Regions from separate parts of the Homo sapiens genome. Here regions 2, 3 and 4 are each reported to be linked to region 1. Evidence: microRNA targets listed by miRTarBase, many of them from high-throughput screens and not tested one by one. Region 1 holds a microRNA gene; each other region holds the end of a gene's coding sequence.
What was found. The annotated mature microRNA hsa-miR-6512-3p reads UUCCAGCCCUUCUAAUGGUAGG and lies in region 1 at 1,932-1,953, shown strand. An mRNA with a match to its seed (bases 2 to 7 or 8) in the 3' UTR can be bound and repressed. Matches are read on the target gene's strand: a 7mer-m8 pairs with bases 2 to 8, a 7mer-A1 pairs with bases 2 to 7 and ends in A, and an 8mer does both.

Region 2: miRTarBase lists DTX1 as a target of hsa-miR-6512-3p. Seed matches in the 3' UTR shown: 8mer at 2,569-2,576.
Region 3: the mRNA of AGPAT4 is a reported target of hsa-miR-6512-3p. Seed matches in the 3' UTR shown: 7mer-m8 at 2,676-2,682.
Region 4: miRTarBase lists DFFB as a target of hsa-miR-6512-3p. Seed matches in the 3' UTR shown: 7mer-m8 at 833-839 and 7mer-m8 at 1,477-1,483.

Annotation. Positions count from the first base shown.
Region 1 is chr2:177,312,677-177,315,763 of GRCh38, reverse strand. It overlaps MIR6512 (microRNA 6512), which reads left to right and starts at 1,882; the gene lies at 1,882-1,958. The region is part of intron 6 of LOC100130691 (Putative uncharacterized protein FLJ44553); the gene reads left to right.
Region 2 is chr12:113,096,755-113,099,841 of GRCh38, reverse strand. It overlaps DTX1 (deltex E3 ubiquitin ligase 1), which reads right to left. Exons shown (of 10, transcript NM_004416.3): 10 at 1,817-3,087. The coding sequence ends at 2,903. RASAL1 (RAS protein activator like 1) reads left to right here. Exons shown (of 21, transcript NM_001301202.2): 21 at 1-564. Among named protein-coding and RNA genes, the nearest start is that of RASAL1, 37 kb to the left of the region's middle. RefSeq lists enhancers at 1,333-1,592, 1,809-2,350.
Region 3 is chr6:161,133,830-161,136,916 of GRCh38, reverse strand. AGPAT4 (1-acylglycerol-3-phosphate O-acyltransferase 4) reads left to right here. Exons shown (of 9, transcript NM_020133.3): 9 at 283-3,087. The coding sequence ends at 377. Among named protein-coding and RNA genes, the nearest start is that of AGPAT4-IT1, 27 kb to the left of the region's middle.
Region 4 is chr1:3,883,139-3,886,225 of GRCh38, forward strand. It overlaps DFFB (DNA fragmentation factor subunit beta), which reads left to right. Exons shown (of 7, transcript NM_004402.4): 7 at 369-2,291. The coding sequence ends at 603. Among named protein-coding and RNA genes, the nearest start is that of C1orf174, 16 kb to the right of the region's middle.

The DNA of each region.
Region 1 (3,087 bases):
TCCTCTGCAGGCACACTTTAAGAACCACTGGTCTAGGAAGAGCCCAGCTGGGGCACTGTCCTAAACCACCGTCCCGCCTTTACCTAGCAGGCCAAATCTGCATGCAGTGTCAGCTATTCCCAATCTGAGAGGCTGGGCCTATAGCCTCACATACACCCTTCATAGTGATGCAACTTCATTTGTAAAAAGGGTCACAAAGGGTGTTTCTATAATTTATATTCCTAGCATACACCCTAAACTGCTTAAAGCAAATGAATTCAGGTCCCAGCCAAAAAGGAGTGGAGACCAGTCACTGCCTGAAAGCATTGGCTTATTACAACACTCCAGCATTTTCTCACGGCAGGGTGAATGAGGTGGATTCTAGTGTAATTACCTTTATGTAATTGAAAACTAAATCACCGATGGCTGCAGAGTTTAAATATCCATTTAAATACTTTCAATTTATTCAGCTTATTTTTTCAGGACATGCTACTACCAAATAGGCTATTAATTTTTCTAATGGATTAAAATCTGAATAGGTACATTAAAAACTAGCATAGCTCAAATAAATGTCCTCTTTTTCCAAAGATTATTAAAGAGAGTTTTCTTTTTCTTTAACCCAGCTATTCAAATACTCTATTAGACCAGGACCTGTAATAATACAGGCCTTGTCCAGAAGGGATCAGGTTTCTATGTTATATAATTAGGCAAGACTTTAAATAGTAAGACATGCACCTGTGGTGCTTTTGTCTCTAACTCCACAAATTTCAACATGCATACAAATCAAGAAGGGGTGGGGGTGTTACATGCAAATTCTGCTTCAGTGGGTGTTGGAGCCTGAGATTCTGGCTTTCTAACAAGCTCCCAGGTAAGTGCTGATGCTGCTGCTTTGAGGGCCACACACCTTGAGGAGTAGGAAGAGTACTCATACTGGAAGAGTATTCAGCACGGACTGGAATCCTGCATACATATCTGAGCTCTGTGTTCTGGTATGTATATAGACTTTTTAAAAAAATTAGTAGAGATGGGGTCTCACCATTTTGGCCAGGCTGGTCTCAAACTCCAGGGCTCAAGAGATCCTCCTGCCTTGGCCTCCCAAAGTGCTGAGATTACAGGCATGAGCCACTATACCTGGCTTATATAGACTGCTTCTAAGGTCCATTCTAACTGTACAATTCCATGATTCAGTCACTGTTTGGCTATTAACTAATTTTTTTAGGCTTCTGATTCTCATTGTTTATAAGCTGCTATATTAGAGAATGTTCTGTACTGGAAGGCCAGATAAAAAGTCTTACTTATGGCCAGTAAGTTTTATTTTTCAATCTTCTACAAGTCTGCCTCAACCCATGGGAAATCTTGGCTAATAGTAACATGATACTGGGCTTGGACCATAAACTAAACTTGAGTCAGCAATGTAGGGCTTTGGTTAGATAAGCAAGAATGAACTTGGGAATATAACCAAAAGAAAGGGACAGCTAATCCTACCAGAACAGGCAGTATTTATATGAATACTTTTTTCAAATATCCACAACTGGGAAAAGCTGCTGAACACATAAAGAAAAGTTAAAAGCACGGCATTATTTAGCTAGTGAAAAGAGAACAAAGAATGCCTTAAGAATAATTTTTGAATGGCAGCAGAAACCAGCATATCCTGTGAAGTAAATGCATTTTCAGGACCTCAAAATAGATTTAGGTTGCCTCTAAAGCAGAACTTTCCCATGATAATGATGATCCTAGGTGGTAGGATTGCCAATGGTAATTTTCTTTCCCAAAGATTCTTACAACCAACCATAAACCTACTAGATAACCTATCAGTTGTGTTATTAACTGATATATCAGTTGGGGTTCAGTGCAGACACTTCTCTAGGTACTGAATGCTAAGAATTATATGCTTAAAAATTATATGCTCTTACCATTAGAAGAGCTGGAAGAAGGCTGAGGGAGATGCCTTCTTCCAGCCCTTCTAATGGTAGGAGCATTAAGAGGGATGCTGTTGGGCTCGCAGTTCAGTCCACACAGCTACAATCTAGAGGTCAGGAAGCTATAAAGTCCACTGCTGGCATCACAGTCATTTCTCACAGATGAAGTTAGTGGCAATGCAGAGGCACAGAAAGTCTGGTCATTAAAAACCACATTTAATGTTGCACGTACATCAACAACTACCAGTGAAAACTAATAGGCAGCCAGGCATGTTGGTGCATGCCTGAAGTCCCAAACATTTGGGACACTGAGGTGGGAGGATCCTTGAGCCCAGGAGGTCTAGGCTGCAGTGAGTTGTGATTGTGCCACTGTACTCCAGCCTGGACAGAACAAGAATCTTTCTCAAAAAATAAATAAATAGAGAGAGAGAAGGAGGGAGGGAAGGAGGAAGGTAAAAAGAGAGAGAGAGAAAGGAAGGAAGGGAAAGAAGAGGAAGGAAGGAAGGAAGGAGAAGAGAAAGAAAAGGAAGGAAGGAAGGAAGGAGAAAGAGAAAGAAGGAAGGAGAAAGAAGAGAAAGAAAAGGGAGGAAGGAAGGAAGGAAGGAAAACTAATAGGCAGGGGAAATAGCCTCTCTCTTCCTTTTACCTTTCTAATTTCGCATCATTATATCTGACTGGCACAGTTTAAATTGTTTAACAAATCCTATTAGCAGCTCAGCCTAGAATTATAGTTATTGAGCTTTGTTCCTAACTCAGTATAAATCTATCTTTATTGAAGTATAGCATACAGACAGAAAAATGCACAAATTATAATCAGAGAGCTTGATGAATTTTCATAAAGTAAACACACCTACATATTGCTAGCACCCAGATTGGGAGGCAGAAACTACTACCATACCAGAAGCTCCCTTCATTATCTTTTCTAGGCATTATCCTCCCTCAAATTGACTGTAATCTTGGCTTCTAATACCCTAGACCAATTTGGCCTATTTTTAAACATTAGACAAAATGGAATGATACAGTGTGTATTATTTTATTACTGGCTTTTCCTACTCAACTATTTGTGAGATTCATTCATGTTGAGAGTAATAATAGTATCTTCATTTTCATTGCTGTGTAGTATTCCATTGTATGAATATAACACAATTTATACGTTCTACCAAAGATGGACATTTGGGTTGTTTCCAAT
Region 2 (3,087 bases), not on the chromosome of region 1:
GGACCTCTTTGATTCTGTGGTTTGGAGGCTCCCAGAGACGTGCCTAGTCCTGTGTGCCTTGAGTCCAGAACTCAGGGCATGGAAGCCCTTTGGCAGGGGCCAGCCTTGCACTGAGTGAAACTTGCCCTCTGGCTTGATTCAGACTGGAGTGGATAGGATAAGGAACCTGACTTATTTGACTGAGACTGGGGTCTCTACTTCACCAAACTGGCCTCTATCCATACCAAGGAGGCCAGCCTGGCCCTGAGCTGCTGGATACAGCTGGACCTGAATTCCTGATGCCCATGTGATGTTGTTGCCCCAGATGGGCACTAAATGGCCTCACTCCTTCCTGTTTTCATGTCTGCTAATCCCTATAACCTCACTGATTCTTCTGTACCCTGCCCTTGGCCTAGGACTCCAACCACAAGCTTCCAGAATCAGGTGCCCTCAGGAAGAACCAAGGCTGGGTGGGGGTCCAGTGTGCCAAACTCAGACCCTTGGAGCCTGGGAGACCTTGGGCCAGGCTGTTTATCTCTCTCTGGGTCTCAGATTACCCTGTATAAAAAGAGGAGGGAAAGTCTAGATGTGTGGTTTTCAAACTGGATTCCAATGAGGTAGTTCAAGAACAAGGGAGGAGTTTCTCTGACTGTGGGCCAAAGACCACCCGCTAGAATGTCTGCTAGAAATGCAGATTTCTGAGGCCCAGCCAGCTACTGACTCAGAATCTGAGGGTATATGAAGGCAAGAATCAGGGTTATTTAACAGATTCCGTAGGTCATTTGGATGAGTATCAGCTTTGAGGACCACAGGCCTGGGGAATGGGCAATTTTATTTTATTTTGTTTTTAGAGTTGGGGGTCTCACTCTGTTGCCCAGGCTGCAGTACAGTGGCATGATCATAGGTCAGTGCACCCTCAAACTTCTGGACTTCAGTGATCCTCCCACGTTAGCCTCCAGAGCAGCTGCGACTACAGGTGCAAGCCATCACGCCTGGCTAATTTTTAAATTTTTGTAGAGATGGGGGGTCTCACTATGTTGCCCAGGCTGGTCTCAAGCTCCTGGCGTCAAATGAGCCTCCCGCTTCGGCCTCCTTAGTTGCTGGGATTACAGGTGTGAGTCAGTGCCTGGCTTGCAATTTTATATGCCAGAGTTTGGGTTGAGGTTTTGTCTGAGAATGAACCACGGAGTACAAATGTTTGGGAACATGTGACTGGCAGAACTGGAAGGGCCTCCAAGGACTCGTTTCCGGTGTTGTGTCACTAGGGGGTGGGACAGAAACCAAAGCCTACCTGGCAGGGGATCAAGTGGACCAGGAAAGACACGGCGCTATCCCGAGGGTGGCCAGCAGGGGTTGCCCGAAGCCGCAGCATCCACCAGAACTACAGGGGCGTCCTGGCATGTTGCAGAGAGGCTGATTTAAGGCTGGGGTCCATCCCTGTTTTTCCCTAGTTAGAACCTGACCCTCCTCCCCAAGGACAGGGTCCTGACAAGCTCTGAGATCCTGATGAGCTGATCACAGTGTCTCCCAGCTCCTCCGTATTTCCCTCGAGGCTCCCAGCTCTGCACCTGAGTTCCTTGTTTCTTGTCATTGTGCCAGGGAGCAGATGTGTGCATTGCCTTGTGCTCTTGTGAAAGAGAAGGGCACTTTCACCTCTGCATTCTTGGAGACTAGGACTAGGAGGGTCTGCCACTGCTTCACCGCCCCCACCCCTTCCAGCCCGAGGCAAGGACCCTGAAGTCATTCTCTTGCAAGCCATCACTCCCCAACGGGGCTGACTGCAGCCCCCAGGAACAGAGCCACCCACCCCTCTCTTGGCAGGAAAAGACCAGGCGAGGAGGAGAAAGACCATTTATTTCTCCACCCACAGTGGGACTGGTAGGTTTTGAAAAGAGCAATCGCTGGCATCCCTTTAAATCTTGGCTGACTCCCACCGTGGCAGCCAATCAGCAGAGGCGGAGCTGGTGAGTTGCCTGGGCAACAGGCCCCTGGTTGGCCGAAGACAATTAGCCACCCCACTGCCCACTCCCAACGAAAGGGAAATTGACTCTCTGCTGTCCACTCTGCTTTAAAATACATCGGCCCAAACTAGGCCTCCTCCTTTCGCTCCTGAAGTCAGAAGCGCCAGCCTTTGGCTCTCAAAATTGGGAGCGATTTGGTGGAGAGGATGGGGTAGGGAGGATGGGAGAACAGCGCCTTTATCTGGGACAGACAGAAGGCCTGGAGATGGGAAGGGAGAAGGAGATCAGAGTCCAGAGAGATGAAGAGGCACAGACACAAAATCAGGACCCTCTAGTCCCCGCTCGTGCTGGCCATTCTTTTGTAGAACTGCTCAGTCATCTGGGGGCTTCCACCCCATGGGCCCACAATTGCCCAATCAGTGGGTGGCAGACATGGGTGATGACACGGAATGGGTGAGGCATCTGGGGTACACTGAGTTTCCCGAGTCCCTCTTTGCCCCCCGAGCCCTGGCAGGCCCCTAAGGGCTTGCCCCGCATCCTCCAGTTTGCAGACAAGGCTGTACAGATGCAACTGAGACACAGATGGGGATCCACATGGGGGGGTCATGGGGTCTTTCTGTCTCTTCTCTTCCAGCCTGGGGGCAAGTACAGGCACGTGGGTGTGCGTGCATGAGTTCAACAGGACATGTGTGTTTGTGTGTGAGGGGGCGGGTCTCTGTCTTTTTGGTAGGGAGGTTTCCAGTACTCTCTGCTTGGCCCTCTCAGGGAGCTATGATTCGGGGCCAGCCTGACATGCCATCTCTCTTCATCCCAGCTGCCACCAGGCAGGTCCCCTGAATGGCTGCGGCCCCTTCCGCAGGCTCCTCCCCAGCCCTGAACCTGGGCTACCAGGACACACCTGGCGAAGGAGGCATTTGCCGGACCAGGGGCAAAGCAGGAGGGAAGGTGGGCAGCCTTGGGCCTCAAGCCTTGGCTGCAGCCTCGGATACGCCCTGGGCTGTGAGCTCAGCCAGCACGTTGTCTAGGTAGCTAGCGTCCGGGTAGCCGTGGCCCGTGAGGTTGGATCCAAACTCGGTCTTGTGGTGGATCTCGTTCCACACCACGGTGTCCGACTCGCCCGTGGTGTTGGACGTGCCGATAGTGAAGA
Region 3 (3,087 bases), not on the chromosome of region 1:
AGTCCCTGCGAACGGCTGTGCATGGCTTGCCAAATCATTCACCTTCAGGGTCCAAGGAGGAAAACCCCCACCAGAGCAGCCTTGCTTTGTCTTAATGTCACATGGATGTCCACACTCAAGGATGATTGTAAAGCCGGCAGGATGATGGCACCTCAAACCCGCCAGCCAGCTCTGAGCTGGCGCTTGTGATTTGCGGCCACGGGCCTTCTCACTTGCTCTGTGGGAAAACGGCCCTGTAGTCTGTTTGGGCTACTCCTAACTCTGCTCTCCTTGTCTCTGCAGCCTCCGTGGGAGTTCGATGGATGATTGGTGTGACGGAAATTGACAAGGGCTCTGCCTACGGCAACTCTGACAGCAAGCAGAAACTGAATGACTGACTCAGGGAGGTGTCACCATCCGAAGGGAACCTTGGGGAACTGGTGGCCTCTGCATATCCTCCTTAGTGGGACACGGTGACAAAGGCTGGGTGAGCCCCTGCTGGGCACGGCGGAAGTCACGACCTCTCCAGCCAGGGAGTCTGGTCTCAAGGCCGGATGGGGAGGAAGATGTTTTGTAATCTTTTTTTCCCCATGTGCTTTAGTGGGCTTTGGTTTTCTTTTTGTGCGAGTGTGTGTGAGAATGGCTGTGTGGTGAGTGTGAACTTTGTTCTGTGATCATAGAAAGGGTATTTTAGGCTGCAGGGGAGGGCAGGGCTGGGGACCGAAGGGGACAAGTTCCCCTTTCATCCTTTGGTGCTGAGTTTTCTGTAACCCTTGGTTGCCAGAGATAAAGTGAAAAGTGCTTTAGGTGAGATGACTAAATTATGCCTCCAAGAAAAAAAAATTAAAGTGCTTTTCTGGGTCATCTGTGGTGTATGTTGACATGGACCGCTGCCCCTCCATCCTGCCCTTGCCCGTGGCTTTGGTGTTTCAGATCCTACTCACGGGAGGCAGCTGCCGCGGAGGTGTGGGCAGCTGAGAGGGGTGGGCAGGCCAGCACAGCTCCTGGCAGGAGACACAGGTCCAGGAGCCCGTGAGCATTTGTGAGAGCAGAGATGGCAAGCACGTGCGTGGAGACCAACGAAGCGTGTCCCTGGCACACAGCAAGGGAGAGTTTCGCTCGGTCTCTGCAGTGCAGTCTCCTGGCGTAAGTCTTGAAGATGGACCCAACTCCCTGAAGAAATGGATCTTGAAATTGAACACAAACATCATGAACGTACAGCCTGGGCATTCTGCAGTGATTTGTGAGATGAGCTTGCATCGACTGTTCCTCTCAGCAGTGACAGCCAAAGTCACCCCTGATAAAATGCAGTTTCACTTTATAAAATGCCTCGCCCCTTCCCAGCATGTAGAGCTTGTCTGCAGCCCTAAAGGAGCCAGGTCCTGCTCTGATGAGGGTCAAATCAGAGCCGACATCCCATGTACAAAAAACCCCCAGGCTTCTGCCTTCCTTCCGGGCTCCTGTCTGCTCCCATTTTACTCCACGGAATAGTTCTGCCCTGTAGCATCTCCAGCGGCCTTTGCAGACTGCTGTCAGCCAACAGGTGCCAAAAATGCAAAAGAAGAAGAAACTAAAAGCAGTGCTATTTTTGCAGAACAAATGCTAGCTATTAAATCATCTTAGGCCAAGACACCAATGGCACTTGGACCGATAGGTATTTGGAGCATGAGTTAGGAAGGATATGTCTTTCTCCAGGTGCGCAGCTGAAAGTTGCTGAGAAAAGCTGCCTGTGTTGCTGTGGTAACATGAGAAGGAATGAACAGCTCTATACAAAAACTGGCCACACATTATAAGGCCTATTCTATGCAGTTATGTTTTTGGCTATTTGCTCATTTAGTCATTGTTTATCAACCAAACTAGGTAAGCCAAGGAGTTACAAGACAGCTCTAGAGAAGCTCCCTCTGCTTACAGGACAATAATGCATTGTTTGTTTGTTGATACAAATGAATTATTTGAATCCACAGAAGTGAAAAAGGGAAAAAATCCTGGCTGACTTGTGGGAAGAGCGTACTGCAGAGCCTAGGGCCTGAGTTAACTCGCTGGCGGCCCTGCAGGCAGGCTTGATGGGAGCGCCCAGCACATCTGCCCACCCTGCACAGGGCATGAAGCACCGTGTGCAGAGATCTGTGGGCAAAAGCCCAGGACGTGACCTTAGGCAAGAGGGGTCCTTGGAGAAGTGGAGGTGTGCATGGTGTGTAGCCTTGCGTGTCTGTGAGCACGCCCTAGTGGACCTGCGCCTGGATTATCGGGCCAGTCTCTCGGAGGGGTCCGTGATGCTGAGTTACGCCATTCACCTGAACTCTGCAGCTCATCGGCTGTAGGATTTGGGTGAGACACTTTTCCTTGCTGACTCATTTCCCCATCTGCAAAATGGGGGTGACGATATCTACCTCTTGGGGTGTGTCAAGGGTAAAAGAGCACACTTTAAGAATCCTAAAGCACTAAGCCAAGGATGAAAGACTAGAAAGCTGCCTCTATGTTGCTACTCTCAAAAATGCTCAGAAATTTTCTTGTCGTACTAAAAATGTGTTATTTTTCTCATTTTCATTCTTCCATTCAACACAGAAGTAATCTAAGTAAGTTCTAAAAACATAGATCCGGGGGCCCACAGACATTCAATTTTCTTCTGAATTGGCTCTGGTATCACACAACACACAAGCAAGCAAACAGCCTGCCTGCTAGGGCCTTGGGTTCCAGGCTGGAGGAATGCAGGCAGAAATCTCTTAGGAAATAACTAAGTGAGCGCCAAGTTTTGAATTGCCTTAGAGCCGAAAGAGAATGTGGCGTGCTGGGGAGAGATCTGGACCTCTTTCTCATCAGTCATTTGACCTGTCCACGAAGAACAATTTTGTTATGCAGCCTGGGAACCTGGTTTCCTTACACCCTGCGCCCTTAATGACACAGACAACCACGGGTACTCCTGGACGGAAGCTCATCACGCCTCCTCAAATACCTTCACCCATGTTCAGGTCACACGGAGGTCACCATCTCCTCAGCACACAACAACTGCTTTGGTTCCCAGGGTTATTTTTTCTACGAGTTGAAAACCCACGGAGCCTAAGCCATCTTTTTGTCCCCTAAGGAGAGCCCCATAGACTAAGAGCTACA
Region 4 (3,087 bases), not on the chromosome of region 1:
GATAACAGGTGCCCACCACCAAGCCCAGCCAATTTTTTGTATTTTTAGTAGAGATGGGGTTTCACTATGTTGGCCAAGCTGGTCTCGAACTCCCAACCTCAAGTGATCCACCCGCCTCGGCCTCCCAAAGTGTTGGGATGACAGGCGTGAGCCGCCGTGCCCGGCCACAAGTCAAGTTTTAAAAAGTAAGAGGAGCCAGGCTGCTTGCATCAGGCTCTGCTCAACAAACCTGGCCAGTAGGTGCGGCCGTGTGTCCGTGATAGCACTTAGGGGAATTTGTGAAGAGCTGTGACTGCAATACACTGCTATGACCTGTTGCCTGTGGCACTGTGACCACAGAAAATGATGTCTCTAACCTTACTTTGCAGAATAGAAAAGAAACGCACCATCATTCCTACACTGGTGGAAGCAATTAAGGAACAAGATGGAAGAGAAGTGGACTGGGAGTATTTTTATGGCCTGCTTTTTACCTCAGAGAACCTAAAACTAGTGCACATTGTCTGCCATAAGAAAACCACCCACAAGCTCAACTGTGACCCAAGCAGAATCTACAAACCCCAGACAAGGTTGAAGCGGAAGCAGCCTGTGCGGAAACGCCAGTGACACGTACACACCACGTCCTGGTCTTTGTTTGAGGCCTGACGTGGGCATCATTTTAACAGGTGCCTTTTTTGTTTTTTTGTTTTTCGTTTTTTTGGTCACTCCAGTAGCTCCTGGAAAAAACCTTAAAAAATGTTTCCTCCAAATCTGATTTCATTACATTTCTGAATTGTTGGGGTTTTTTTTGTTGTTTTGTTTTGTTTTGTAGATGGAGTTTCACTTTTGTTGCCCAGGCTGGAGTGTAGTGGCGCGATCTCGGCTCAGCCTCCCGAGTAGCTGGGATTACAGGCATGTGCCACCACGCCCGGCTAATGTTTGTATTTTTAGTAGAGACGGGGTTTCACCATGTTGGTCAGGCTGGTCTCAAACTCCTGACCTCAGGTGATCCGCCCACCTCAGCCTCCCAAAGTGCTGGGATGACAGGTGTGAGCCACTGCGCCCAGCCTGAATCATTTCTTATACCTTCTGACAGCCCAACTTCCAGAGGACAGCTCTGGGGTACTCGTTGGATGTCTGTGAGTACCTGGTCATACGGGTCAGTAGGGATAAGAATTGTCTCTGGGCTGAGGAATTCTTCTGTTCTCTGGTTTCACCAGCGTTGGGTTTGCTCATGTAATGTGGTCACCATACTCAAATGGTGTCATGGCTGAAGTTGGCCACCTTGCTTGAGGGACAAGTTGTTTATGTATCAGCTCTCTGCTGGGTCTCCCTTTCCATGGCAAATGGGCAGCTCCATCCTCTTGACTCTTCTAAATGCCCAAAAGAGGTGTCATGCTTTGGGGGTACGATGTTTATACTCCGTAAAGAACATACAAGGACATTCACTGCTGATTTTTTTTTTTGTTTGTTTGAGACAGGGTCTCACTCTGTCGCTCAGGCTGGAGTGCAGTGATGCAATCTTGGCTCACTGCAACCTCCGCCTCTCAGGTTCAAGTGGTTCTCCTTCCTCAGCCTCCCAAGTAGCTGGGATTACAGGCACCTACCACCAGGGCCAGCTAATTTTTGTATGTTTAGTAGAAACGGGGTTTCACCATGTTGGCCAGGCTGTTCTCGAACTCCTGACCTCAGGTGATCTGCCCGCCTCGGTCTCCCAAAGTGCTGGGATTACAGGCATGAGCCACTGCACCTGACCTGCTGAATTGTTTATAATGGCAAGAAATAGGAAACCCCCCAATGTCTGTTGAACAGCTATCACGTTGAACCACGTGAAACTGCTGTTTTCTAGGCCAAAAATGGTGAGCGATCATTTATTTCATGATTCAACCTGATACATTTACATAGTGCAAAACTGTGTCACAGTTTCAGGCTTTTATGAGGAAAGCGTTTCTGTGTAGAAACTGGAAGCTGTTCAGGGCATCGGCAGCTGAACCCTGCTCCGTTGGTCAGCGTTACTATCATCTCGGATCATATGGAGCTCATGTCAGCCGTGTGGGTGGCGGGTGCACAGAGACGGTCTGGAAGGAAACACGCGGATCTGAACAGCAGTAATCCTGGGGGATACGGGGGTTGGGCTAGATTACAGAGGGCTCATTTTCTACGTCATGTATTTTATGATACTTGAATTTTTTGAAATGGGCATTTATTTTATAACATGTTAAAATGTACTTTTTAAATTAAGTCATTTTGTAATATTTGAATTTTTACATTTGTTGTACAATCAGGAAAAGCAATAAAGATTTTTCAAAAATAGACATGTCAAGAAAGTTTGCACTCATTGAGGATGCTGAAAATAAGGATAAAAATAAGGAGTCTGTGATATTTTACAAATTGACTTCATTTACAAATTGAGTCATTTTACAAATTGACTTCAATTTTACAAATTGACTACATTTTCTTCACAGAGCTAAAGCAATACCTTAGAATTAACCCAGTCCTGTGTGGGGAATTTCTAGAAGTCCCATCTATGGTACGGTGATGTTTATCTGCTCTGATCAGGGAAGGACAAACAGTGGGAGAGTCAGGGCCTGGGAACCGGGGGGCCTGGTCCCTCTTCTCAGATCCCTCTTGCAGGGTCTGAAGAACTCTCTGGAGCCAGCAGATCCCACCTGTGCAGCAAGGAGCCTGGCCCGGACAGCTGTGAGGCCCTTCCAGCTCCATCGCTCCAGCCTCAGGAGACGAGCTGCTCTGTTTAACAGCCACAGACGTGGGCCTTTTTCAGAGACACATTCTTTTGTTGTCTGTCTGTTTTTTAAGACAGGGTCTTGTTCTGTCATCCAGGCTGGAGTGCAGTGGTGTGATCTCAGCTCACCGCAGCCTTGAACTCCTGGGTTTAAGTGATTCTCCTGCCTCAGCCTCTGCAGTAACTGAGACCCCGGGCATGTGCCACCATGCCTAGCTAATTTATTTTTATGTTTGTAGAGATGGTCTCACTATGTTGTCCAGGTTGGTCTCAAACTCCTGGGCTCAGGCGATCCACCCACCCTGGCCTCCTGAAGTGCTGGGATTACAGGCGTGAGCCCCTGCACCCGGCGCAAGACACATTCTTGA